Linked DNA regions of Homo sapiens. The protein of the gene in region 1 purifies or fractionates together with the protein of each later gene. This does not show direct contact. Each region holds a gene or a part of one and is shown in the gene's direction. Other genes may lie near its edges. The genes, in order: SURF4, TMED7, TMBIM4, DERL1, ADGRG5 and PTGS2.

Region 1 (4,308 bases):
CCTCTGACCTTGGTGGAGTGTGCTTGGCCCTTGGTTGGCCAAGGCTCTCCACCCGGGCTCCCCTTACTCTTCTTTCTTTCCTCACTGTTCGTATCTTTCTCAAGTAATTCCTGTGTGTCAGGTGTCAGGGGCAGGCCTCCAGGAGCTTCCAGAGCACACCTCCGGAGCTGACTGAGAGCCCTGGCCGGGTAGTGTCCAGGAAGAGCTCCTGGCGCCATGGAGAGAGGAGAGAGGATGTTTCTGGCCTGGATGGCTGGGTGGGCCAAGAAGCACTTGGGAATTTAGTTATGGATTAGAGATTCATCTTGGTAAATCACAGCCTGTTACTAGTTGGGAACTTCAGTCTTCCCCAAACCTTCCACATTTCAAAGCTGGTGCTTTATTGCCTCCTGCCTCCCTTTGGCTTTTATCTCCCTACTTGCACCAGCAGCCGTCTCAGCAGTAGCTACATCAGCCTGATGGATAGAGACTTCATGACGTGCAGCAGCTGGAACTTTTGTTTATAAAGCATCTCTTTTCCTCACATTTATTTTGAATTTCTTACGTTTCAACCTATGCAGATTGTCCAGAACATCGTGGGCACAGCTCTGATGATTTTAGTGGCCATTGGTTTTAAAACCAAGCTGGCTGCTTTGACTCTTGTTGTGTGGCTCTTTGCCATCAACGTATATTTCAACGCCTTCTGGACCATTCCAGTCTACAAGCCCATGCATGACTTCCTGAAATACGACTTCTTCCAGACCATGTCGGTGATTGGGGGCTTGCTCCTGGTGGTGGCCCTGGGCCCTGGGGGTGTCTCCATGGATGAGAAGAAGAAGGAGTGGTAACAGTCACAGATCCCTACCTGCCTGGCTAAGACCCGTGGCCGTCAAGGACTGGTTCGGGGTGGATTCAACAAAACTGCCAGCTTTTATGTATCCTCTTCCCTTCCCCTCCCTTGGTAAAGGCACAGATGTTTTGAGAACTTTATTTGCAGAGACACCTGAGAATCGATGGCTCAGTCTGCTCTGGAGCCACAGTCTGGCGTCTGACCCTTCAGTGCAGGCCAGCCTGGCAGCTGGAAGCCTCCCCCACGCCGAGGCTTTGGAGTGAACAGCCCGCTTGGCTGTGGCATCTCAGTCCTATTTTTGAGTTTTTTTGTGGGGGTACAGGAGGGGGCCTTCAAGCTGTACTGTGAGCAGACGCATTGGTATTATCATTCAAAGCAGTCTCCCTCTTATTTGTAAGTTTACATTTTTAGCGGAAACTACTAAATTATTTTGGGTGGTTCAGCCAAACCTCAAAACAGTTAATCTCCCTGGTTTAAAATCACACCAGTGGCTTTGATGTTGTTTCTGCCCCGCATTGTATTTTATAGGAATAGTGAAAACATTTAGGGACACCCAAAGAATGATGCAGTATTAAAGGGGTGGTAGAAGCTGCTGTTTATGATAAAAGTCATCGGTCAGAAAATCAGCTTGGATTGGTGCCAAGTGTTTTATTGGGTAACACCCTGGGAGTTTTAGTAGCTTGAGGCAAGGTGGAGGGGCAAGAAGTCCTTGGGGAAGCTGCTGGTCTGGGTGCTGCTGGCCTCCAAGCTGGCAGTGGGAAGGGCTAGTGAGACCACACAGGGGTAGCCCCAGCAGCAGCACCCTGCAAGCCAGCCTGGCCAGCTGCTCAGACCAGCTTGCAGAGCCGCAGCCGCTGTGGGCAGGGGGTGTGGCAGGAGCTCCCAGCACTGGAGACCCACGGACTCAACCCAGTTACCTCACATGGGGCCTTTTCTGAGCAAGGTCTCGAAAGCGCAGGCCGCCCTGGCTGAGCAGCACCGCCCTTTCCCAGCTGCACTCGCCCTGTGGACAGCCCCGACACACCACTTTCCTGAGGCTGTCGCTCACTCAGATTGTCCGTTTGCTATGCCGAATGCAGCCAAAATTCCTTTTTACAATTTGTGATGCCTTACCGATTTGATCTTAATCCTGTATTTAAAGTTTTCTAACACTGCCTTATACTGTGTTTCTCTTTTTGGGGGAGCTTAACTGCTTGTTGCTCCCTGTCGTCTGCACCATAGTAAATGCCACAAGGGTAGTCGAACACCTCTCTGGCCCCTAGACCTATCTGGGGACAGGCTGGCTCAGCCTGTCTCCAGGGCTGCTGCGGCCCAGCCCCGAGCCTGCCTCCCTCTTGGCCTCTCATCCATTGGCTCTGCAGGGCAGGGGTGAGGCAGGTTTCTGCTCATAAGTGCTTTTGGAAGTCACCTACCTTTTTAACACAGCCGAACTAGTCCCAACGCGTTTGCAAATATTCCCCTGGTAGCCTACTTCCTTACCCCCGAATATTGGTAAGATCGAGCAATGGCTTCAGGACATGGGTTCTCTTCTCCTGTGATCATTCAAGTGCTCACTGCATGAAGACTGGCTTGTCTCAGTGTTTCAACCTCACCAGGGCTGTCTCTTGGTCCACACCTCGCTCCCTGTTAGTGCCGTATGACAGCCCCCATCAAATGACCTTGGCCAAGTCACGGTTTCTCTGTGGTCAAGGTTGGTTGGCTGATTGGTGGAAAGTAGGGTGGACCAAAGGAGGCCACGTGAGCAGTCAGCACCAGTTCTGCACCAGCAGCGCCTCCGTCCTAGTGGGTGTTCCTGTTTCTCCTGGCCCTGGGTGGGCTAGGGCCTGATTCGGGAAGATGCCTTTGCAGGGAGGGGAGGATAAGTGGGATCTACCAATTGATTCTGGCAAAACAATTTCTAAGATTTTTTTGCTTTATGTGGGAAACAGATCTAAATCTCATTTTATGCTGTATTTTATATCTTAGTTGTGTTTGAAAACGTTTTGATTTTTGGAAACACATCAAAATAAATAATGGCGTTTGTTGTATGCAGTGTGATCCTATAGCGTTGCCCAGCCTGAATGGGGCTCCCCTCAGGATGCCAGTGAGCGAGGTTACTTCTCTAGGCTTCTCTGAAGACCACTCAGAAGCCATGTCCAGAGAGAATTAGTCCCTCAGAGTCCCTGCTGCTTCCTGGGTGTGGGGGACAGACTCCCTCAGCCCTGCCTTAGAGGGCAGCAGATGTCATGAGACAAGGATAAGTGGGTAGAGAAGACACTGGGGACAGCCGATCATTCAGAGGACACACGGTTTGATCAGGAGCGGGGGAAATATCTGAAGGCTTTCTCGAAACTTCACGGCATGTGCTTTTATTAACCTGGCTGTTTACAGGAGCTGAAGCTCTTGGGTTTGCGGTGATGACTCTTGAACTTCTTTTTCAACGAGCCCAACTGCTTCTGTGGGATAAACAAAATTCTGATTACTGAGCCTTTCTGATCCCATGGAGAAGGGGCCCTGGAGTGCAGGGCTCTCCCCACCCACACAGCCTCAGAGGTGTCGGTCAAATACCCACAGAGGCTTTCTCCACCCCCGTTTCCTTAACAGCTGCAGGATTAGACCCCGCTCAGCAGGGCCTCAGAGGAGTACAGTGCAATGCCACACACTCATTAGGACCTTGTCCTCTTTTGGCCTTGGTCCTGCTTATCTACCAAAGGCGGGGAAGTCTCCACTCCTGCCCTGATGGCAAAGGCAAAGGTGGTGGCTAGTAATCAGGTCCCTGTGCCCAGGGGTAAGGACAAACACGCCACAGCTCATAGTCTGAGGTAGGAGGGTGTCCTCACAAACCAGTGGTCTTGACCGTGGTCCACAGAGCCTGGCTTCCACAAGGGGCTGGCTGGGAAGCAATGGTAGGCACTCACGGCCTTCCGCCAGCCAGCGGCCTCGGCTTCTATGGTTCTTGTGTGTTGTTGGCTTGGGATTTCACTTGTGAAAAAGGTTCAGTTTTCTTTTTTTAAACAAATGGAAAACCATCACTAGGGGAAGCCACTGCCACACTAACAGAGGAGGTGACAGCTCACCTTCCCGCGCTTCTGGACCAGCCCTCGGTACACGGTCGTCTCTCTCCTGCCCTCATCAGTGGCCTTCTCTCTTGGGGGCTTTGCCTTCTCATCCTCTTTGTCTGTCAAAAAGTCATCAGTGCCATCCCCATCCTCCGTGCTTCCAAGGTCCTTTCTGGTGAATAGCTCAGCTGGGAGGAACACAGGGATTGGCTGACAGTTATTTTAGGCTGAGTTCGCTGCCACCTTTGCAGGGGAGGCAGCACCACAGTCTGCTCCCTGCTGACAGTAGAGGGTCAGGGAGAAGCAGGGCCTGTTCTGCTTACGTGGGTACAGGTCTGTCATGCTGTCATCACTTGCAGCTCCCCCCTCATCACTGGATGTGGGCTCCCAGAAGGCTTCCCGCGGGCGAGGCCCGTCACCGTCCATCTGGTCCTCCCTCCT
Region 2 (5,259 bases), on another chromosome or scaffold:
GGAGGAAAAAAGCATAATTTAATATCATGCACTAACTGATGAGCATGGAATTTTGAGACTGACAGTCTTTAAAATCTATCTTAATTCTTACATGTAGGCATTTCACAGAGAACTTCAGACTTTTGTAGTGAAAAATAATGTTGAAAGATTTTATGAACTTTTAATTGTAAAGAGAAAGAAGCATTAAAATAAGGAGGAAGATCACTAAGGTAGAAACATCAGTGGTAAAAGAAGGTTGGGAAGGCTGAGCAGTGTTCCAATCTTCTGAAGCATTTTCTTTAATCCCTGAAGGAATGTTGCTGTCATACTCAGGAGGCTGGTGTAACTGGAAGCAAAATGATGCCTAAATTAGTAGATAAATAATACCATATCATAGCCTTTATACCATTACTTAGTGTTACTCAAGCTGCTGTAACAGTAACTTGTGCTGTAACTTTAGGTGAAATATTGAAGATTAATGGTAAGTCATCTCACAAAAATAGTTACAAAAGCTAAATTCAGATTTATTTTGGAGACATAGAGAAAGCGTAAAAAATTTAAACCCAGTGAACAACTATTGCTTAGGTGATGAGGACTGTTTTATTTCTAGTTCAAATACAGCAAAATCCAAAATGCTTCAAAATCCAAAACTTTTTTTTAGCTCCAACCTGATGACACAAGTGGAAGATTGTTACATCTGATCTCATGACACATCATTGAAAATATCATATACAGTTGCCTTAAGGCTGCATGTATAAGGCATATATGAAACATAAATGAATTTCATGTCTAGACCTGGGTTCCATCACAAAGATATCTCATTATGTATATGTAGACATTCCAAAATCAGAAAAAATCTGAAATTCAAAGCACTTCTGGTCCCAAACATTTTGGATAAGGGATACTCAACCTGTATGGGCTTAGATCGTATCTAAAAGTTACTCAATTAGGCATGAAAAAGAATTATTTACCACTTATTCGTTAACATCTTAAACTGGTATTTTAGTGTTCCCAGGTTCTATTTAGTCTCTTGGCCAAAGTCATGGTGAAAGAAACAGCTTTAAGAATGTGTAAAAGCCTTAATTCATAAACCTGTTGTTAGAATTAGCAAGATATATTCAAATACTCTTAATTTTAGAAATGTTCTCTTTATTTTAAGGTCTTGTGTGAAGGACACCTTGCTTTGTAAAATGATATTTCTTTGGGGCCATTACCTTAACCTGTATCCATTCCTTCATGAATTTTAACTTGTATAAGGTGGCTTGTTCTAAAAACCTAAGTGGGTAAATATAAGAAATGAATGGTAATAAAGCAGTTAGTATCATACCCGTCTTTATCCATGCTACATTTTTTATTTTTCTCAGTCTTATTTTTCTACTTTCAAAAAGATAATGTATCATATAATAGGGATCATTATAAAGCAACTTTTCATACTTTAAAATTGAAAATTACCAGCTAGTAAGTTCAGAACAAAATTACCAGCTAGTAAGTTCAGAACAAAATTACCAGCTAGTAATGCAGAATAAATGATAAAAGTTTTACTCTCACCATTTTTTACCTGTTGATAAAATGATGGATTTAGAGTAGGCAATGATCAGCAGTCACTACTAAAACCATTAAGTAAAAGGCTGATGGGGAACTTTATACTGAGTGGATCAGACTGAATGATCATTCACAAATGGAGAGATAACTAGACATTATGTGCCTTATCATAATATGCAGTAAGAAGTACACAACATTGACTACTAGACGTTCCCACCCAGAACATTGCACCTGAATTCCATCAAGTCTCTAGCTCCAAATGCCAGTTTACAAGAAATACAGAGGATAAAGGAATAACATGGGAATGCAATCAACAAAATCCAGGACGTGGGAAATGCCACAGGATAGGGGTTGATGGCAAGGAAAAAAGGAAAAACAAGGAAGAAAGCCTAAAGATTAATGAACACTTACATCAGCCAAATGATTGTGTTAACCTTACTTGGATTCTTACTTGAAAACCAACTTTGAAACAATAGGGGAAATTTGAACACTATTTCCTGACTTTAAGGAACTGTTTTAGATTATTTCATGTGTTATAATACTATTGGGGTTATGTTTTTAAAAAGTGTTATCTTTTAGAAATAAAGTATAAAAGTATTTGTAGCTGAAGTGATAAAATATCTGAGATTTGCTTTAAAAATAATCGGGGAATGTAGATGAAGCAAGATTAGCCATGTGTTAATCTTTGTTGACATGGTGGGGGTTCATTGTACTTTTCTCAATACTTTTGAATATATATGGAAGTTTTCACTGTAAAAGTTTTTTAAAAATCACATCTCAGGCCAGGCGTGGTGGCTTACGCCTGTAATCCCAGCACTTTGGGAGGCCGAGGCGGGCGGATCATGAGGTCAGTAGTTAGAGACCAGCCTGACCAACATGGTAAAACCCTGTTTCTACTAAAAATACAAAAATTAGCTGGATGTGGTGGAGTGCACCTGTAATCCCAGCTACTCAGGAGGCTGAGGCAGGAGAATCACTTGAACCTAGGAGGTGGAAGTTGCAGTGAGCCAAGATTGCGCCATTGCACTCCAGCCTGGGTGACAGAGCGAGACTCCATCTCAAAAAAAGTCACATCTCAAAAGTTGTAGAATGCATGTAATTTAATTTCTGTGATTTTCTCTAATCCAGTAGTTCTTAACCCATACCCCATGGACAGGCTTGAAGGAGTTCCTAAATATTCTGCATTTGGGTCAACTCCTTGCCTTTATGTGTACTTTCCAGGTGAAGAATCCTTGGGCAATATGCCATTTTGAGAATATAGAGAAAGCAAATCCTAGAAGCACATCTCTCTCTAGCTCCTCATCACAAATTAGGAATCATTTTAGCACAGTTTTGCAAATTTTTCATTCCTAGGGGCCTGAACAAAGCAAGGACAACAAAAATATTTGACTCTTCTAATAGGTTAATGCAGTTTGTTGGCCTCATAATTTCTTACATTTTTTAAAAGCACTTTTAATAGAATATTTTAATAATTATTCCTTTCATACTTACTTTGGCAGAACTTCATTAAACATTATTTTCTAATTTCTATATTCCTTAACTAAAATTAAAACAAACTTAGATTTGTTTTTAAAACTCTTAATACAGGCTTGTTGCATAAAATAATAATAAAACATATATTTTACCACTAGGATTAAGTTTGCAGCAGTAGAAAAATATTAAACCATGGTATACAAAAAAACTAGTCATTTAACCTTTCTCAAAACAGATGGTATAATAAATGTATAAAAAGGCAAGCTGTTATCAGCTAAAGGCTCACAAATTGATTACACAGTGAAACTGAAACTTGCATCCTGTTGGGAACATACATATTGGTTTAGTTGACTGGCATGAGGGAAAAGGCTGATTTAACAAATAGATAAATGTAAAAAAACAAAGTCATTCCTATTCTGATAGATCCCTTTCAGATTTAAAAGTTACTAACGATTTTGATGTTGTGGCTGTTTTAAACATAGTTCAAAGAACTTTGACTAATTCAGCTTTTTTTTGTACTGTGCTTTGTTTATTTTTATAGATATTTGGGCTTTGACTTATATTCTCATTGGTGAGCTCACTGCCATTTTCTTCCTAATTCTTCTTTAAAGAACTTGGGCTGGAAATTCTGTAGTCACCAACCTTAGCTGATAAGTATTTCTGCTATTGTTAGCTTAGTGTTCCATCTGCCCCCTTACTGATGCCATGGCTGTGACATCTCAGTTGGGGAAAACAGCTGCTTCATGAGATCTCTAGCCTTAACAGTTGTCCCAGTGAAAATGAGCAGGGGGGTTTCATTGCAAAGACAACTGGCATAAATGTATGAATGAATGCCAGATTAGTAGCATGTTAGTCAAAAGAGGAATTGAGATCAAATTGAAAGAAAAGCTGAATATGATAGATGAAGTCTACAGAAAGTATCACACATACTGACTGAAAATATTTCTCTGCAGATGGAATCTGCCTGTGTTTCAATTCACGAAGCTCTGAAGTCTGTCATCGATTATCAGACTCATTTCCGTTTAAGAGAAGCTCAAGGCCGAAGCCGAGCAGAGGATCTAAATACAAGAGTGGCCTATTGGTCAGTAGGAGAAGCCCTCATTCTTCTGGTGGTTAGCATAGGGCAGGTATTTCTTTTGAAAAGCTTTTTCTCAGATAAAAGAACCACCACAACTCGTGTTGGATCATAACTACGTTTTGAGAATTGATGCACCATTGCCACTGTAATATTGCTGTCCTCTAATTAATTTTAGGTACTGAAGAACTTAATATTGGCAACATTTTTAAATCCTTACTCATACACTTGTTGGGAGGGATGTACAATGCATATTCCCAAACTGTGGAAAGGACACCTTTTTTTATTTGTAAAGGTGGAAAAACTTTGGAACTCATTTTGGGCTATTCATGTTAAATATTCAACACCAATGATCTACTCTGTTCGCAGTTGTTTATATCTACTCTTCGCACACTAAACTTTGGTATTTTGATTCCTTTTAACCATTTAAGACTACTTTTCTTATAGGTAGTTGATATTTTAAAAACTTTAGATTTAATGTCTACATGTGTTAGGGAGGAAGAAAATTGCCTTTTAATTGTTAATAAGAAAACCAAATGTGATGAACTGTAGCCCAAGCCCTATTCTGCACTGTTCAGTTTTATGGAGGAAAAATAAATCTACCATAGGAATGTTAGTTAATATTGATATATCATGGTAAAATTGATTTCTCACTAGCTTAGAAAATGTCAGACTTTTGTTTTTGGGGTTTATAATTTAAACCAGCTATGCTATTTTTTCATAAAGGCATTTGTAGTACACAGAAAACAGTAGTTTCAGTAGTGTAAAAGAGTTTATACAGGCCTTAAATATCAGACTTTGTAACAGGTAGAAATATTACAGAATAATTTAAGACACTACAATGGGGGCAAATGAAATAGGAAAATTTTTAGTGAGTTACACGTACTCATTACATTTTCAGTGCTTTTACAAGGAAAAAAGGTGATATGTTTAATTTTAAAATTTTAATTGGCTAGCTCTTGCCCTTATATGACTTTAATGTCTGTGAGTCATTCCCAGCTTAAATTAACAATTGTTAGTATTAGTCTCACACATAAGTGCCATACATTTTATCCTCATGGATGTGATGCACTGAAAAGTTAGTTGCTCTCCTTTTTTCTTTTTTTTGTCGTGCATATTTTATTTCTGTAGTTTCTGGTTAGCTACCCTAAAGTGATTTAAAAATTTAGAATGCTTTGTGTTTCCTATTT
Region 3 (5,259 bases), on another chromosome or scaffold:
GTAATCTGAGAACATTATTTTCCTCAGTAATTGCAATATCTTTTCAACCTAATCGTATACTTAAATTACTGACAAGAAGCAAAATGGACTTCATGTCTTATCTTTTCCATGTTCACCTTCCTAATCCTGTAATGGCATAAACAGAGAAATTCCAATCATGTAGCATTTAATGATAGAAAGAACATGAATAATTACTCCCCTGAAAAATTAAAAATTACTTAAATGGCTTTGGGTTCAAAGCAGTTAACCTCCAAGAGGTTATAACTTTGCAATTTATTAAAATGTTAAGGAGTTTTATTACAATAGCCATAATTGAATGGATGATTATTCTAAAATTACAGAAAGGAATTTGGCATATATTCAGTAAACCCCAAAATAATGTACTCCAAGATAATACACATTTGGATATAAAGCAGTTAGTGGTTGGTTTCTGTCCTCTGCAGGGTAAGTGAATGGTAGGCAACCCCAGACAGCCCCAATATTTTTCTTTCCCAATTTCCTTGATTTGGGCTGATAAACCAAGTATAACTAACTAGATGATTGCTGGATTTGCTGCTACTGTCCAGGAATTCCCAGCCAGGCAGGAGACCCAGAATCATCCCTATTGATATTTAAACCATAATGGACAATCACCACAGATGGTGGTAAACTGTGCCTGGGACAGAGATGGCTGAGAATCACTCCCATACCTGTAGAACTCCAAACTGGCTACAGGCGTGATAGCTCTCCAGTCATTTCATTAACTTGGTAATAATGTGACCTCTGATTTTGTATGAATGAATTTTTTGGAGACTGTTAATTGCATTATGGGTGTGGTTTCACTGTACCCATGTAGTCAAGGATGGATAAGAAATCTTTTCTAATTGTTTTTATTGGCATAAAGTACAGGAGAAAATGAAGCATTTCTATAAAATGCCAGAAAAAGCTGTTTTGTATTGAGCATGTTTATATGCATGTTAATCAGTGTTTTAATTTTACAGTTACTTTCTATGATGTATATATTATTCTGCAAGCTTTCATACTGACTACTACAGTATTTTTTGGTTTGACTGTGTATACTCTACAATCTAAGAAGGATTTCAGCAAATTTGGAGCAGGGTAAGTTGTATATATTCTTGGATATAATAGATAGATGTCTTTAATTATTATAGGTGGTTTTGAGGAATGTGCTACACTGTTATTTTTGGGTACTGTCTTTTAAAATGGAGGGTAATAAGAGATCATCTCTTTGAGTACTAGGGCCAGGTCCTACTCCTAGAACATACACAGAAATGGAAAGTGGCTTTGACTTATTTGCTTCTCTCCTATAGTGAAAGGGAAGTGAATTAAAAAAAAAAATAAGCTTTCCAGAGAGTTTAAGCTTGTATGCTTTATTAACATTATGGAATTTACTGAAATTACTTCAGTCTTTGTCTTAGCATAAATGTTACCAAGACCATCCACGTCTTCTTGGAAGAAGCGCTGTAATTAGTACAGGTATTGAAAGGGTCTGCATGAACTTTAAGACCTTTTGATCCATCTAGATTAACCTGTATCCTTCCTCAAACAAATATACGGAATGATCCTTTTTATATTAGGATTATGGTACAGCATTGCCCTCACCTGGTAGGAATGCATAGACTCTTTTCTAAGCTCACAGTGGCTTCCTGTTGGCACAGTCACCCAACCGTTTTCTTTTTCCTGTTACAACACTATTTACAAAACTCTGCTCTTGCTAAACTTTCTTTCCTCCCCCACCCCTTTTATTCTGGTAATCCAGAACACCAGAAGTCTCTATTGAGATAAAATATAGTTGGTCAGCCAACACTGACAATTGCGCGAGCTGCTTAAATAGTTTCATTAGAATGGAGTTTGATTTAGGGAGAGGTAACATTTTCTATTTTCTTTTCCTTCTTTGGAAGGATGTTTCATACATATTTGTGTGGCATATATGATGAAAGTTTTGTTCTACTTCCTCTTCTCAACCCAATCTCCAACTGTTCCCTCCCTTTCATTAATTCCAGTATCATCTCTCTTAAATCCTTTTCTGGTAAACTTGCCTTATATTTCAGCCTCTTCATAATAAATTTACATTGATTGATAGAAATGGTATTACAGTGATCATATATAGATCTGAGACCAGATATTTCTGAAGTGCGTCTGTCTGTGTCTGCTGTTTCTGATAATTCTTATGATATTTTCTTTCTTTAAGTGTTCAGTTATTTTTGACTATGTAATTGTCCTTGAAAAACTATTTGTTGAATTTCTTTGAGGCCTTGATTGAAGGTGCACTTTTCCATACAGTATTTGGGTTTTCGCCTAGCATCTGGGAAAACTATTGGATTGGGTCCACTTGAAACTAAATTCATGGCTTACGATGTTTTCCCAACCACACAAGTGTTCTTCAGTTAGACTACAAATCAGCAAAGGGATAGCTTGTGGTGACAATTTCCCAGGGATGGTTCTTCTCTGCCCCCACCCCGCAATTTACCCCTGCTTAGTGCATTGATGACTTTTCTTGTAGTTGGGCAAATTCAGCTACAGTACTATGATTACTTCTTTGGGTTTCCACTTTTACCTAGATTTTGATTTGATAATTCCATTCTACCTTGACAGTTATTTGATGTTTTTAAGAACGTATTCTTTGTTTTCTCTTTTATGCATCATTTCAGTAGTTTTTCGGGGTGGGACAGGGGCAGTAATTAGTCTGGAATAGTTCTTACTTGCTGTAGTACTGGAAACGGAACCCTTTCAAAATTGCCTCTTACCTGTATTACTACAACCAGCCTCTCTATTCTCCAGTCTTAACAGTTTCCAGCCTCTTTTCCACCAAGCAGTTGGGTGATACAAAAATGGAAACTTGATTACAGTATACCTATTTAAAACCCTAACACTTCACTACTGCTCTTGGTATACAGCCCAGTTCTCCACTGAATCACATCTACTGCTATTAGTTACTGGATATTGCCATGTAATGACTCTCTAGCAAAATCCTAATAATAATTATACTTTGGTCAGTATGCCATAGATTCAGCTACTTAAGAGTAGCACTTTATTGCATTTTAAATAAAACTTAATGGCACTACTTACTGTGACGCCTCAAAGCCAAAGTGGTTGTGGAAGCTGAGTGCCAAAATGGATATAAAGACCGAGGGAAAAGATTTTCTGTGAAAATATTTTCTAAAAAGTTTATAGGCTGTTCCTTCTGACCTGTTTATGGGACATAATAGGGACTGAAGAAGTGCGTTAAATGTTTGGATGTATGGTAGTATCAGGCAATGGTGGCAGTGCTTCATAGATTGACTTAAAGCTGTGATGTTTTTACAACATCATTATCCTGTGGTAATTCTGCCACAAAAGGAATTAAATCTCAGAACTACATATGATAACTGTGGCAACTGGTCATTGGTGTGCTAGAGTTGCCTTGTGCCAGCTTATGAGGCATCTTGCAAGTCAGTTGTTAAACTGCTGGAAGTTTAAAGTAGGCCATGAAGGATGTATGTACACCACAGAAATTAAGAAGCACTACAAATCAGGGCTCATTTTCTTTCCTAGAAAGTCAGTTTACTGGTACATCACTGTTTGTAAGTTATTTTTTATTCTGTGCTTCTTGTTGAGAGGGATGAGGGTAGGATTTGTCAGTCTTCTAGATGGAGTTGTTAGAATAGCAAAATCAGCACTATGTCCATGGTATATCTTATCTATATTCTCAGAAAATTTGCTCTCTTTGATGCTTAAATATTTAATGAGATGTGAGTCAGAGTAGAGTGAACTAACAACTTAGGCAGAATATTTGTAGGACATGACTTTCAAATCTTTACCTGTTACAGTATCTACAGAGAATGCTGTCATAAACTGACAAGTCTTAGGCTGAATTTCTTACCAGAAACTTACCAAATGGAGCCTGTGACCCTAAATAACTGTTTTAGTGTGTGTACACTTAGGTTGCTGGGTGGGGCATGCTGCTTAACCAGGGAGCCTAAGTGTGTCAGATTTCAACTTGGATGTTGTAGTGGAGAAAAGGTATCTGTTTTAATATGTATTGTCAATAGTGTCTGATCAGGCTCAAATGTAGGATCTTGTCCAGTTAGTGAATAAGAGTAAATTAATGTCCAGTGACCTCTGGCAGCCCTATCCTAATGTCTTATTAGAAGCCCACAAGAATTGGAGAGGATTTTTCATGGGTCTCGTGTTTCTGAATGTCTTGTGAATGATGTGCTGACTGCTCTTTGTTCCAGACAATCTTTTTAAGGGTTTTTTTTTTCCAATAGTGAACAGCCTGGAAAGATAGAAATAGTGCTCGCTAGAGCAGAGGGCAAGCATGTTTACTTTCCATTATAAAAAAGACTTGCTTCCCTAAATTCAAGGTTCCTCTCTTGTAACACAACCCACTGTGTGTGTAGGTGTCATGTGGCCCTCTTAGCATCACCTGGGCCCTGTCATAAAAATGCTGATACTACTGTTATTACTGTAAACTGTCCTTTATCTCAGACCTAGGAGCTTGATGCATCCATGAAACTGTGCCAGGCTAACTTGTTAGCCTGCAAGTAGGGTAATATCTCGGATGCTGTAAGTTCTTAATATCACCTTCCCCATACCCCATGGTGCAGGAACGTTGGAATTTCCCTAGGCTTTAAGAATGAAAAAGCAAATCCTAAGTCCCTTTCAGTCCTGAAGGATCTATGTTGTGAGGTAGCATGATACCTCATTCTCACTTAGGTATGCCAGATGTATCCTGAGAAATTTTAGGGCCATTTCAGAGAGACAGCTGAGGACTAGATTCTCATCATGCCTTCATTTCACCAAATAGCATTACAATAAATAACTCTGTTACTGTGAGAGAACTTATTTTGTATGAGTTCAGTCCTTTTGCATTTATTTATTTATTTATTTTTTAATGGTATCTTGGTAAATGTTCTTTGTGCACTAGACAAGAATGTGTATTTTGCTGCTGCTGTCGGATGATTTGATAAATGTCAATTAGGTAAAGTTGGTTCATAATGTTAAGTGTTCTATTTGCTTACTAATTTTCTGCCTACTTGTTTTATCAATGTGAGAGGGGTGTTGAAATTTCCAACTACAAGTATGGATTGGTCTATTTCTTATGTAAATTCTATAATTTTGCATCATATTATTTTAAACTTCATTTTTAGATGCAGAAACATTTAGGATTGTTACGTACTCTTGGTGAACTGACCCCTTTATCATTATGAAGTGACCTTCTTTAGCTCTAGTAATATCATTGCCCTAAAATCTATTTTGTTATTAATATAGCAACCC
Region 4 (5,259 bases), on another chromosome or scaffold:
CCCTTATCCTTCATTTTTCTTTCTTTCTTTCTTTTTTTTGGAGACGGAGTCTCGCTCTGTTGCCCAGGCTGGAGTGTATATGGCGCAATCTTGGTTCACTGCAACCTCTGTCTCCTGGGTTCAAGCAGTTCTCCTGTCTCAGCCTCCCAAGTAGCTGGAATTACAGGTGCACACCACCATGCCCAGCTAATTTTTGTATTTTAGTAGAGACGGGGTTTCGCCATGTTGGCCAGACTGGTCTTGAACTCCTGACCTCAGGTGATCCACCCGCCTCAGCCTCCCAAAGTGCTGGGATTAGAGGCGTGAGCCACTGAGCCTGGCCTTATCCTTCATTTTTCTTGCTACATATTACCCTTTGGTATTTATTAGTCTGCTTCCCCTCAGAGAATAAGGCTCCATGAGAGCCGTTCACCACTGTCCTTGTTACCTGGAATAGTGCCTGGGACGTAGTAGGTGCTTATATATTAACTGAGTTGTTGGAAGTAATTGGGCACTTGCTGTGTGCTGGGCACTGGGGTACAATAGTAAATAGGACTGAAAAGGTTTCAGAGCCTGTGAAGACATAGAGGCACGTGTTTTAAGGGGTGTAATATTTGATAGGGTGTTCCACCCAGAAAGGCCTCAGAGAAGACATTTGAAGAAATTGGAATACTGAGGAGCCAGCCAGCCAGCTTTGGGTAGATCTGGCTCTGGAGACAACCTTCCAGGAAGGACTAGTAAGTGAAAGGCTCAGAAGTAGGAGCTGGGAACAGGAAGAAGACTGGGTTGCCAGCTGGCACAGGGTCAGCTGTAGGGTGAGGATTAGTAGATGACAGCAGGGAGATAGCCAGGGCTGGGTGTAGTAAAGCTAAGATGGAAAGGTGGGTTAAAGCTAGATCATAGTTGAGCCTTGTAGGTCATGTTAAGAGGTTTGAACTTTATTTTGAGGGCACTATGAAGTCTTTGGAGCCTTGTGAACAAAGGACTGACAGATTGCCCCGACTATTCTGTGGAGTGGACTTTGTGTGTGTATGGAGGGGGTTGAAGGAGGAAGGGCTAGGTGATGAGATCAGAGAGATGAATCCAGTTAGGAGGCCAGAGAGATGGTGGTTTGGATCAGTGTGGCTGTGAAGATAGAGAAAAGGGCATAGACTTGGCAGAGGGGACGAGATTACAGCCGAATGGATATAAAGAGTGAATGGGTGAAGCGAGCAGGACTGAAAGATACTACTGTTTTCACAGGAGCAGCTGAGTGGATGGCGGAGCCCTTGACTGAGATGGGGAATGGTCAGGGATACCTGGGTTGGGAGTGGGGGCTGGTATGGATGAAGAGTTAGGTTTTGGCTGTGCTAAGTCTTGAGATGCTTTTCAGGCATCCATGTGGCGAGGCCAAGGGAGCAGTTGGATATAAAAACATGACTCTGGAGTGCAGCTGGAATTGCATACTGTTCTGTGTTTATTACTTTACTAAATATTTGTTGGCTGAGAGAATGTTGTGTACTTTGTCCCTGGTGGCTTGTTGGGTAATGTGTGGTCATGGGGAGCAATGGTGGCATATTAATGTGTGAGAAGGACCTGGTCAAAACCGGCTTGTTGTCCCTGTTAGCAAAATCCTCACTTGTGTAGTGACACTAGTGACTACACGATGTAAATAAGCACATTGTAAAGAAGCAATGTAAATAAGCCTAACAGGCTGCGGGTGTATAAGGTTAAAAGTGGTGAACTGATTAAAAAGAGTAATCGTTCTTGTCACATCTTCCACAATTTTGTCATCTTCCCTGTATTATTTCTTCTCAGCTGCCAGCAGGAGGCAGGACAGTGTACTGCCCAGGTGTGAAAAGACCAACAGCTGTACCTTGTCTTTTCTTCCTGTTACTCTGATTCTTGCCTATTTTGGACACATGTAACTTTCAGACCCACCTGGAGGAACTCATTTGCAAATGAAGCAGTCAAGGAAAAACTGCATTTGAGAGGCTGCTGTGCACGGACAGTGTGCGGTGTGCTTTAGCAGAGTTCTGCTAGAAAGTTCCTTTTTTCCTTAGAAGCTGAATCTTTCACAACTTACAAAAATGGGGGAGTGATTGATTTAGAATTGTGTGCTCATGTTGGAAGTGACAAGTTATTTTTCCTCCTCAGCTCTAGATTCTTGTGTGTAGCTTGTTGGTTTAGAACGCTGAGGTTTATAATGTTATTTCTTTAGTTTGGATAGGTTGAAACAGGTGTGTGTTAAGACTCATTATACTGTTGTCTACGATTTCTCCCTATTCTGAGTCCCTCAGATTTATGTTCATCAATCAAATAGTTCACAATAATGAAATGTCTTCATATTAATCGTTGATTAACTACACAAGAGGTGGCAATTCCTGCTGCCTTTGTGTTTTCTAAGGTTATGTCTCCCAGGGCCGCCTGCATGGCTATATTTCTTCATTTCTTTGGACAAAATAACATCACCCTGTTACAACTTCCCTGAGGTCATGTCACTGAACTCTGACAGTCATCCTGAGATAAGTGTTACCCCCATTTTGTAGACAGCTTCAGTTTCAGTTTCTATTTCGTTGAGTCAAGGATAGTTCTAAGCTGTTTTGTTTAACTCCTTTGCATAATATCTACGAAAAAAATAAGTATGTAGCAAAACATTTTTGAAGGTGATTTCTTCCAAATCAATCATAGCAAATTGTTTTTCCTTTTCTATTCGAGTAGAAAGGCTGTTAGATTTCAAGTAGTTGAATCATGGTCTCAAGGCCTGGCTCAGTCCCCTGCTAGTTGTGTACCCTTAGGCAAGTTATTTATCCTGTCTGAGCCTCAATTTCTTTAGGATCTGAGGATAATATCATAGCATATTAACTTTGTTCTAAGACTCCATTGATTATACGATGCACCATCAATTTAATGCAACTTTTTTGGGGGACAGGGGAGTAGAAATTACATTCAACGAGTGTATTGATTGTAAGACACTCTAATTTCAGAAACACAGGAACGAGTACCTTCAAATTGAGGAAATATGTTATCTACTTCTTGCCTCTAGTATGTAGAACACATAGAAAAATGTTTGTAATACCCAATAAGTAGCCTGATAAATAAGCTATTCAAAAATAGTTGCCTCCTACGTGGTTGGTATGGGAAAAAAAATAGTTGCCAATTTTTATTTATCAGCCAATACTTTATGCCTTATTTCCTTCTCTCCTGGACAGTAAGATTCTAATTTTAATTAGTAATTGCAATTGAAATGTAACTGCTGGATGATTATTCTGCTTTGTCTTCTTAAAAGCATCCTGACTTGAAATGGGAAGATGTGAACTCTTGATTTCTCTAATTTATTTCCAGGAATAAGAAATGGTACCAACCAATTCTGTGACTCAGCCTTGTGCTTATATTTGCCAAGCTTTTGCTTATATATCACATTTAACCTGATGACAGCAACCTTAGGAGACTGATTTAAGGGTGTATTGGGGAAGAGAGACGTTTCAACATAGCAGGGAGGAGAATGAACTTGGACTATAGGCTGAGCATAGAAGTTCTATATCCATCAAGGTTTGGCTATAGAACTCTAGTGGCAAGTGTTCTGGTACGTAATTTAAGATCTTTCCTTAGTAGTCCTGTCCATGTTGAACAGTTCTGCTGTGTTCTGTAATAATGTTGCCCATTAGATTGTGGCTTTTTAAAAAACTTTTTATTGAGTTACAATATACAAGCAGGAAAGTGTATGTATAATAAGTTTATAGCTTGAGTTTTTAAAAATTCAAAACATGTATACAGCCAGCATTCAGATCAAGAAACAGAATCTCTAAAAGCTTTCTCCTGCTTCCTTCTGGTCACTGTCCTCTCTAAGGGTGACTATGCTCTTGATTTTTAATACCATGTATTGTTGTTGCCAGTTTTTATGCTTTTTATAGGTGGAATTATGAAGTATGTTCTCTTTTGTGTCTACCTGCTTTTATCAACATTATGAGAGTCACCCATATTGTTGCATGTGGTTATAGGTTGCTCATTATGGGACCATACCACAATTTATTTACTCATTCAGCTATTAATGGACCTTTTGGGCAGTTTCCAGTTTGGCTATTATGAATGGTGCTGCTATGAACATTCTAATACATGTCTTGGTGAACATATGTACTTCTTGGTGAGGAGAAATAGTAATTTCTGTTGCCTATATATCTAGGAGTAGATTTGATGGCTTCTAATTGCTCTTTTTAAAGATTAAGTGCCTTTCATTTGTTTAAATGAATGGAAGGGGCCTTTTCTTGCCTACCCGTTGTGTCTCCCCACCCAGCAAAAAAGGCCACAGTTTACTAAACTAGCATTTGTCACACAGGTGCTCATCATCTTTCTTGCTTGGTGACTGATATATACTTAAGTCCGAATCAAGTGATCCTTATTATTTCAGACAAATCCTCACTTTTCATACTTTAAAAAAAAAAACACTAGATTCTGGATGGCAAATTATTTCAGTAGCAGATTGTTTAGAAGATTTTAGCTAAAGGATGGCTGCAACCTACACTCTGAAGTTGTTGGACTAATAACTGAGGAACAATGTCTTATGTCTTCTTTAAGGGTGTATATAGCAGTGAGCACATGGGCTACATGTCCTTGTTAAGTGAGGAACTCTAATTAGGGCCCAGCTTTCCTCCTGAAAAAACTGGGATCATTATGGGCCTGGCCTTGAGGTTGCTGTGGACTTAAAATGAGATACTCCCCCACGAGTCCTCTCAGTAAGTGTGAGGCAGGCAGTCCTCTGTCTGCAAGTCGTGGCTCTTTGTGCTGCAGTTGGCTGCCTCTTAGGCTTTCCAGGGTTGAAAATGGGCCTCTTCACTCCTGGCACTGAACGTAAAGCCAGTTCCTTCTCCTTACTGTTTACATATCAGGTCGAGGAAAAAATGGGATTTAGTTGGATACTTACAATGGGGATTTCCGAAATATGTTACACTGTGTCCTTCTAAAGAGATAAGCTGTCTTCTGGTGTTTTCAGATTATAATTTTAAAGTAACACAAAAATAATATTAAGTCTTTTAGATCAATGAAAGCAAGTATAACTCAAGGGTAGGCTTAATGAACAGGGAAAAGAAGTGAGATATTTTGACAGACACTGATTTCCAAAGAACAGGTGCAAACAGTGACTAAAAATAGTCTTATGTCATCAGCATTAGAGAAAATGTAGTCAGACAAAAACAAGGTTTCTTTTCCAAAACCAGGCCTTGAGTAACTTATAGGAATATGGGGGTAGTTGAAATATGAATTTATAAAAACTGGTTAGCGGGTGTTTCCGAAAAGATTGTGATA
Region 5 (3,500 bases), on another chromosome or scaffold:
AGTCCTCCCTCCCATTTGCTCCCCACCACCACCTTCCCAGTGTGACCACTCCTCCCTCCACCACTGTTCCATCGTAGAGCCGTCACTAACATCATCTTGGAGGAGAGCTTCCTCCAAACCACCAGGCTCATTGCTCTGAAGTTGGGGGCTCACAACAGTCTCCTCTCAGTTGTCCCTTGACCAGTGAAATTCTGTGTCAGCAGCCCCAGGGACCGCCCCAGGGACCGAGGGTCAGCCCTCTCCCACATCTCCTGAGCCTTTGTCCCACCCCTCAGGGGCCCCAGCCCTCCTGGTGCTGCTTTCCCTCTCTGTCAAGAGCTCGGTATACGGACCCTGCACAATCCCCGTCTTCGACAGCTGGGAGAATGGCACAGGCTTCCAGAACATGTCCATGTGAGTGCCCTCAGGGCTGCAGTGGGCTCCCTGGCTCTGGCAGAAGGGCCACATGGGCCTGGGGCTCCAAATGGAATATCCTGTAGGCAAAGCACTGGCTGTGGGGCAGAGAGGGAGCTGGGGCTTAGACAGGGGAGTTTGCAGGGGGCTCCACCACATCCCTTCCATGGATCCAGGTCTCCTGCAGAGGCAGCCTTGTGTTCTATGCTGGTGAAGTCTACGAAGCCAGCGTCTGCTCGCCAACCTGCCAGGGCAGCCGGGCCTCCCGCCTCCTCTGTCCTGCCCTGCCCTCCAGTGCCCAGGCCCTGAGGGTCTGGCTCAGCCTGCACTTGACTCTGTTCCCCTGCAGACCACCTTGCTGCACCTACCCAGGCTCCAACTCCTCCCGACCTGCCCTGGGCACTGCCAGGCCTCTCAAGTCCTCCTAGTCGGACAAGAGTGCTGTGGGGGCTGGGCTTGGGGGAGACAAAGAGAGGCAGCGAGGTGGGCCTTTAGGGGCCGGGGGACACGCTGCTGCTTTTTTTTTAATAGCCCCTCCCTGCAGGCGAGGACGTTAAGCTTTTTATTATTATGCAACATTTCTAATAGCCAGACATAGACTAGCCTAAGGAACCCCCGCGCGCCCATCACTCACTTGCAGTTGGCTGTGGAACCTTTTTCCTTCTTGGCTGATGCAGGCTCAGGATGGGGGCTGATTCTGTGGCAGGCCTTGGGTATCAGCTGGCTTCGTTTTCACAAGGGCAAGGGCCGGGTCCTGTTGCCAGCCCTATTTTACAGTTAGGGCACCTGAGAAACAGGCAGCTTAAGAACTCTACCTGAGGAGCCCTAGCCAGTCAGTGGCAGAGCTGGGGCTTGGTCTCCGGCAGGCTGGTCCAGAGCCTGGCCCCCAGCCCCTGAAGCAGGGCCGGGGGACTGCGTGCTACATAGGTGGGGCTGATCCCTCTCACATTGAGGCTCGGGTGTATCAGAGGACATGTGACTTCAATTTACATGAATTGTTCTCTGCAATCTCCATGACAACCCATAAGGCAAGTACATAATCATCCCCAACCTACAGATGAGGAAATAGAGGCTCTGGCCTCAGTTTACATACTCTCTGAAGATGTATTTTCTTTTTTTTCTTTTTTTTTTTTTTTTGAGATGGAGTTTCGCTCTTGTTGCCCAGGCTGGAGTGCAATGGTGTGATCTCGGCTCACTGCAACCTCTGCCTCCTGGGTTCAAGCGATTCTCCTGTGAGTAGCTGGGATTACAGGCGCGTGCCACCACGCTCAGTTAATTTTTGTATTTTTAGTAGAGACAGAGTTTCAGCATGTTGGCCAGACTGGTCTCAACTTCTGACCTCAGGTGATCCGTCTGCCTTGACCTCCCAAAGTGCTGGGATTACAGGCGTGAACACTATGCCCAGCCTATTTTCTTATATAATAATATGATGAGGACAAAGGAGCTTTAGTGACACGTCCACAGGACCCACTAATGCACAGATGTTAGAGAACACCCACCTACGAGCCAGCTTCTCCCTGGGTCTTCCTCACTCTGCCCTCTCCTCTCAGGAAACAATTACCTTGGGGTTTGTGACTTTTTTTTTTTTTAATTTAAAACATCTCTTACTATGTATATACACATTCCTAAACCCAAACATCAGTTAAAAACCAAAAACAGGCCAGGCGTGGTGGCTCACGCCTGTAATCCCAGCACTTTGAGAGGCTGAGGTAGGCAGATCATGAGGTCAGGAGATCAAGACCATCCTGGCTAACACAGTGAAACCCCGTCTCTATTAAAAATACAAAAAATTAGCTGGGCGTGGTGGCAGGCACCTGTAGTCCCAGTTACTCGGGAGGCTGAGGCAGGAGAATGGCGTGAACCTGGGAGGTGGAGCTTGCAGTGAGCTGAGATCGCCACTGCACTCCAGCCTGGGCGACAGCGAGACTCTGACTCAAACAAACAAACAAATAAAAAACACATCCTGGCCAACATGGAGAAATCCCATCTTTACTAAAAATACAAAAATTAGCCAGACATGGTAGCGGGTGCCTGTAATCCCAGCTACTCAGGAGGCTGAGTCAGGAGAATCGCTTGAACCCGGGAGGTGGAGATTGCAGTGAGCCGAGATTGCGGCACTGCACTCCAGCCTGGAGACAGAGCGAGACTCCGTCTCAAAAAACAAAACAAAACAAATACAACCCTTGAAAATCATTCAGATGTCCACTGACGGGATGCTGGATGAATGGACTGCAGTAGAGCTGCCCCCGTGGGGATATTCCCTAGCGGTGAAAGTGAGTGGTCGCCTACCACACTCATCAACTTGGAGGAATCCCAAAATAATGTCCTGGGACCCTTGTGACTGTAGGGGCAGGAGCCACAAAGTGAACCTCAGCAGGGGATTGTGACAGTTAGGGGCTCAGGCTCTGGGCCTGGGGCTTCAGGATCCAGCTTTGCCTCTAACTGGACTGTGTTCCTGAGCTAGAGCCTGAGTTTCCTCATCTGCAGGATGAGGACGATTATGTACTTGCCTTATGGGTTGTCATGGGGATTGCAGGGGACAAGTCACATAAAGCACATCGTTACTGGTGGAGGGTGTCCAGGTTCTTGGCGTCTTGAACCAAGAATTGGACAAGCCTGGGCATGGTGGCTCGTGCCTGTAATCCCAGGACTTTGGAAGGCCGAGGCAGGTGGATCAACTGAGGTCAGGAGTTCGAGATCAACCTGGACAACACGGTGAAACCCTGTCTTTACTAAAAATACACAAAAATTAGCTGGGCGTGGTGTCAGGATTCTGTAGTTCCAGCTACTCAGGAGGCTGAGAGAGGAGAATTGCTTGAACCTGGGAGGCGGAGGTTGCAGTGAGCCAAGATCACATCACTGCACTCCAGCCTGGTGACAGAGACTCCCTCTCAAAAAAAAAAAAAAAAAAAGGAAAGAGTGAGGCATGAATTAAGCAAGAAAAGCAGAGATTGATTGAAAATGAAAGTACACGCTACAGTGTGGGAGTGGGCCAGAGCATAGGGCCTCAAGAGCCCTATTACAGAATTTGTGGAGATTTAAATATGCTCTAGAGGTTTCCATTGGTTACTTGATGTACACCCTCTGTAAATGAGGAGGATGAAGTA
Region 6 (4,826 bases), on another chromosome or scaffold:
ATGCAAGTTCTTCCCGCTCCGGACTAGATGATATCAATCCCACAGTACTACTAAAAGAACGTTCGACTGAACTGTAGAAGTCTAATGATCATATTTATTTATTTATATGAACCATGTCTATTAATTTAATTATTTAATAATATTTATATTAAACTCCTTATGTTACTTAACATCTTCTGTAACAGAAGTCAGTACTCCTGTTGCGGAGAAAGGAGTCATACTTGTGAAGACTTTTATGTCACTACTCTAAAGATTTTGCTGTTGCTGTTAAGTTTGGAAAACAGTTTTTATTCTGTTTTATAAACCAGAGAGAAATGAGTTTTGACGTCTTTTTACTTGAATTTCAACTTATATTATAAGAACGAAAGTAAAGATGTTTGAATACTTAAACACTGTCACAAGATGGCAAAATGCTGAAAGTTTTTACACTGTCGATGTTTCCAATGCATCTTCCATGATGCATTAGAAGTAACTAATGTTTGAAATTTTAAAGTACTTTTGGTTATTTTTCTGTCATCAAACAAAAACAGGTATCAGTGCATTATTAAATGAATATTTAAATTAGACATTACCAGTAATTTCATGTCTACTTTTTAAAATCAGCAATGAAACAATAATTTGAAATTTCTAAATTCATAGGGTAGAATCACCTGTAAAAGCTTGTTTGATTTCTTAAAGTTATTAAACTTGTACATATACCAAAAAGAAGCTGTCTTGGATTTAAATCTGTAAAATCAGTAGAAATTTTACTACAATTGCTTGTTAAAATATTTTATAAGTGATGTTCCTTTTTCACCAAGAGTATAAACCTTTTTAGTGTGACTGTTAAAACTTCCTTTTAAATCAAAATGCCAAATTTATTAAGGTGGTGGAGCCACTGCAGTGTTATCTTAAAATAAGAATATTTTGTTGAGATATTCCAGAATTTGTTTATATGGCTGGTAACATGTAAAATCTATATCAGCAAAAGGGTCTACCTTTAAAATAAGCAATAACAAAGAAGAAAACCAAATTATTGTTCAAATTTAGGTTTAAACTTTTGAAGCAAACTTTTTTTTATCCTTGTGCACTGCAGGCCTGGTACTCAGATTTTGCTATGAGGTTAATGAAGTACCAAGCTGTGCTTGAATAATGATATGTTTTCTCAGATTTTCTGTTGTACAGTTTAATTTAGCAGTCCATATCACATTGCAAAAGTAGCAATGACCTCATAAAATACCTCTTCAAAATGCTTAAATTCATTTCACACATTAATTTTATCTCAGTCTTGAAGCCAATTCAGTAGGTGCATTGGAATCAAGCCTGGCTACCTGCATGCTGTTCCTTTTCTTTTCTTCTTTTAGCCATTTTGCTAAGAGACACAGTCTTCTCATCACTTCGTTTCTCCTATTTTGTTTTACTAGTTTTAAGATCAGAGTTCACTTTCTTTGGACTCTGCCTATATTTTCTTACCTGAACTTTTGCAAGTTTTCAGGTAAACCTCAGCTCAGGACTGCTATTTAGCTCCTCTTAAGAAGATTAAAAGAGAAAAAAAAAGGCCCTTTTAAAAATAGTATACACTTATTTTAAGTGAAAAGCAGAGAATTTTATTTATAGCTAATTTTAGCTATCTGTAACCAAGATGGATGCAAAGAGGCTAGTGCCTCAGAGAGAACTGTACGGGGTTTGTGACTGGAAAAAGTTACGTTCCCATTCTAATTAATGCCCTTTCTTATTTAAAAACAAAACCAAATGATATCTAAGTAGTTCTCAGCAATAATAATAATGACGATAATACTTCTTTTCCACATCTCATTGTCACTGACATTTAATGGTACTGTATATTACTTAATTTATTGAAGATTATTATTTATGTCTTATTAGGACACTATGGTTATAAACTGTGTTTAAGCCTACAATCATTGATTTTTTTTTGTTATGTCACAATCAGTATATTTTCTTTGGGGTTACCTCTCTGAATATTATGTAAACAATCCAAAGAAATGATTGTATTAAGATTTGTGAATAAATTTTTAGAAATCTGATTGGCATATTGAGATATTTAAGGTTGAATGTTTGTCCTTAGGATAGGCCTATGTGCTAGCCCACAAAGAATATTGTCTCATTAGCCTGAATGTGCCATAAGACTGACCTTTTAAAATGTTTTGAGGGATCTGTGGATGCTTCGTTAATTTGTTCAGCCACAATTTATTGAGAAAATATTCTGTGTCAAGCACTGTGGGTTTTAATATTTTTAAATCAAACGCTGATTACAGATAATAGTATTTATATAAATAATTGAAAAAAATTTTCTTTTGGGAAGAGGGAGAAAATGAAATAAATATCATTAAAGATAACTCAGGAGAATCTTCTTTACAATTTTACGTTTAGAATGTTTAAGGTTAAGAAAGAAATAGTCAATATGCTTGTATAAAACACTGTTCACTGTTTTTTTTAAAAAAAAAACTTGATTTGTTATTAACATTGATCTGCTGACAAAACCTGGGAATTTGGGTTGTGTATGCGAATGTTTCAGTGCCTCAGACAAATGTGTATTTAACTTATGTAAAAGATAAGTCTGGAAATAAATGTCTGTTTATTTTTGTACTATTTAAAAATTGACAGATCTTTTCTGAAGATAAACTTTGATTGTTTCTATACATCTTTGTCATATGACATAAGATTTCTCTGAAGCATTACTCTTAAACCATTATCTTGCATTCTCCTACCTATTCAAAACTAGGACTGGCCCTTCATGAAATGGTTTTGCCCTCAATTATATAGAGGCTTCCTAGAGTCACTATTTAAATCTCATAATCCTTATTCACTGCGACACTGTGTTGGAAAATGTCTAGTTTGTGTATCTTTACAGAAGATGGCAAACAAGCTTATTTTCATTGCCTAGTCTAGAAGAAGAAGAAAAAAATACACAATAAGGCAAAGAATAAGACATATATTATGAAGGGGGCACAAAGTTAAGAAGTTCAAAGAGGAGGAAATTATACAAAGTTGGGCAAATCATTGATGCAAAAGCTCATAGGCTTTTGTTGTACCTCTATCCTTGACATCTTGGTAATTTCAATATCTACATGGACCACATATTTAGCATCTTCCCTGGCCTCTCCTCTTTGGCCTTCTCCATTCCAGGGATGGCCTCTTCCACCATATTTCCTGAAATCATACATATCTTGATATCATTATGATTAATTACAGCACCACTTTCAAAATCTTGATTCCAAGCATCTTCCAGCTCACCTATTTTATTGCTTACACTCTAACATCTAACTCTCAGTCTCACTGAACCTACCGATCCACCAACCTCATCACTTCACTATTTATCACCTGTTTTATCTTTCCATTTACTTCCATATGCATCTAGCTCAGATTCTATTGTCCATCATTCTAATCATTCCCCTCTGCTCTGTATATTCTCCCTCTACTGTGCTGAATTGACACAAGTTGATTAAATCCAGCCATTCTCCTAATCTGTTTTTTATTTGGCTTCTCAGTAGCATTCAACACAAATAGCTATAATCTCTTTACTGAAAGAACCCCTGCCCCAACCTTGGCTTCATGGTTTGATACTCTCCTGGTCTTTCTCTACCTTTCTCAGAGCACTATTGCTCAGTCTTTTCTCTCTCTCTTTTTTTTAAGCTCTTTCTCTTCTACTGTATGTATAAGTTGAAGTGTCTTGATATCTGCTCTGTCTGCATTCCTCCAGATTAATCACATTTAAGCTCATTATTTGAAATAATAAGCACTCAGAAATAAGCACTCCAGGACCAACGTCTAATTGTCAATTGACAACATCTCCAAATTGTCAATTGACAACCTCTCCACTCAAAGTCATCAATTTAATTGCTTCTTTTACATTCTTCCCTCCCAGAACCATATATCCCAAATAATAATTGTCCAACGTTAAAGACACCACCATACTCTTTCCTTCACTTGCATAGCCAATCCAACAGCAATCCTGTTGACTACAACCCACAAATAAATCTTAAATCTGTCACCTTTTTTCCAACTTCACAACCTAGCAGTGTAATAGTCTATTAATTGGTGTTCTCTTGTCTATTCTTTCCTCAGCCCAAACCATTCTCCTTATGGCAGTGGCAGTAATTTTATATATATATATACACACACACTTTATACTTTAAGTTCTGGGACACATGTGCAGAACGTGCAGGTTTGTTACATAGGTATACATGCGCCATGGTGGTTTGCTGCACCCATCAACTTGTCATCTACGTTAGGTATTTCTCTTAATGCTATCCCTCCCCTAGCCCCCCACCCTTCGACAAGCCCCAGTGTATGATGTTCCCCTCCCTGTGTCCGTGTGGTCTCATTGTTCAACTCCCACTTATGAGTGAGAATATGCAGCGTTTGGTTTTCTGTTCCTGTGTTAGTTTGCTGAAAATGATGGTTTCCAGCTTCAACCATTTCCCTGGAAAGGACATGAATTCATCCTTTTTAATGGCTGCATAGTATTCCATGGCATATATGTTCCACATTTTCTTTATTCAGTCTGTCATTGATGGGCATTTGGGTTGGTTCCAAGTCTTTGCTATTGTGAACAGTGCCACAATGAATATACATGTGCATGTGTCTTTATAGTAGAATGATGTATAATCATTTGGGTATATACCCAGTAATGAGATTGCTGGGTCAAATGGTATTTCTGGTTCTAGATCTTTGAGGAATCTCCACACTGTTTTCCACAATGGTTGAACTAATTTACAATCCTACCAACAGTGTAAAAGCGTTCTTATTTCTCCACATGCTTTCCAGCATCAGTTGTTTTCTGACTTTTTAATGATTGCCATTCTAACTGGCATGAGATGGTATCT

What was found.
Region 2: the proteins of SURF4 (region 1) and TMED7 fractionate together in Homo sapiens (co-fractionation; one study listed by IntAct). This does not show direct contact.
Region 3: the proteins of SURF4 (region 1) and TMBIM4 purify together in Homo sapiens (co-immunoprecipitation; one large-scale study listed by IntAct). This does not show direct contact.
Region 4: the proteins of SURF4 (region 1) and DERL1 purify together in Homo sapiens (affinity purification with western blotting, with the first as the bait; one study listed by BioGRID). This does not show direct contact.
Region 5: the proteins of SURF4 (region 1) and ADGRG5 purify together in Homo sapiens (co-immunoprecipitation; one large-scale study listed by IntAct). This does not show direct contact.
Region 6: the proteins of SURF4 (region 1) and PTGS2 purify together in Homo sapiens (affinity purification with western blotting; one study listed by BioGRID). This does not show direct contact.

The regions. Positions count from the first base shown.
Region 1 is NC_000009.12:133,360,012-133,364,319, reverse strand, and holds the end of SURF4 (surfeit locus protein 4), read left to right. Parts: intron 1-560; coding exon 561-827; 3' UTR 828-844; coding exon of another isoform or gene 845-856; 3' UTR 857-2,856; downstream 2,857-4,308. Other genes in the region: SURF2 (surfeit locus protein 2), read right to left, coding at 3,181-3,264, 3,886-4,055, 4,191-4,308. UniProt on the Homo sapiens protein: Endoplasmic reticulum cargo receptor that mediates the export of lipoproteins by recruiting cargos into COPII vesicles to facilitate their secretion.
Region 2 is NC_000005.10:115,615,134-115,620,392, reverse strand, and holds part of TMED7 (transmembrane emp24 domain-containing protein 7 precursor), read left to right. Parts: exon of another isoform or gene 1-325; intron 326-1,193; exon of another isoform or gene 1,194-1,254; intron 1,255-3,947; coding exon 3,948-4,184; 3' UTR 4,185-5,259. Other genes in the region: TMED7-TICAM2 (TRAM adaptor with GOLD domain isoform 1 precursor), read left to right, coding at 3,948-4,075. UniProt on the Homo sapiens protein: Potential role in vesicular protein trafficking, mainly in the early secretory pathway. Appears to play a role in the biosynthesis of secreted cargo including processing and post-translational modifications.
Region 3 is NC_000012.12:66,141,680-66,146,938, reverse strand, and holds part of TMBIM4 (protein lifeguard 4), read left to right. Parts: intron 1-980; coding exon 981-1,098; intron 1,099-5,259.
Region 4 is NC_000008.11:123,034,999-123,040,257, reverse strand, and holds part of DERL1 (derlin-1), read left to right. Parts: intron 1-5,259. UniProt on the Homo sapiens protein: Functional component of endoplasmic reticulum-associated degradation (ERAD) for misfolded lumenal proteins. Forms homotetramers which encircle a large channel traversing the endoplasmic reticulum (ER) membrane.
Region 5 is NC_000016.10:57,570,143-57,573,642, forward strand, and holds part of ADGRG5 (adhesion G-protein coupled receptor G5 isoform 1 precursor), read left to right. Parts: intron 1-275; coding exon 276-393; exon of another isoform or gene 394-491; intron 492-1,027; exon of another isoform or gene 1,028-1,179; intron 1,180-3,500. UniProt on the Homo sapiens protein: Orphan adhesion G-protein coupled receptor (aGPCR). Ligand binding causes a conformation change that triggers signaling via guanine nucleotide-binding proteins (G proteins) and modulates the activity of downstream effectors, such as adenylate cyclase.
Region 6 is NC_000001.11:186,669,604-186,674,429, reverse strand, and holds the end of PTGS2 (prostaglandin G/H synthase 2 precursor), read left to right. Parts: coding exon 1-77; 3' UTR 78-2,639; downstream 2,640-4,826. UniProt on the Homo sapiens protein: Dual cyclooxygenase and peroxidase in the biosynthesis pathway of prostanoids, a class of C20 oxylipins mainly derived from arachidonate ((5Z,8Z,11Z,14Z)-eicosatetraenoate, AA, C20:4(n-6)), with a particular role in the inflammatory response.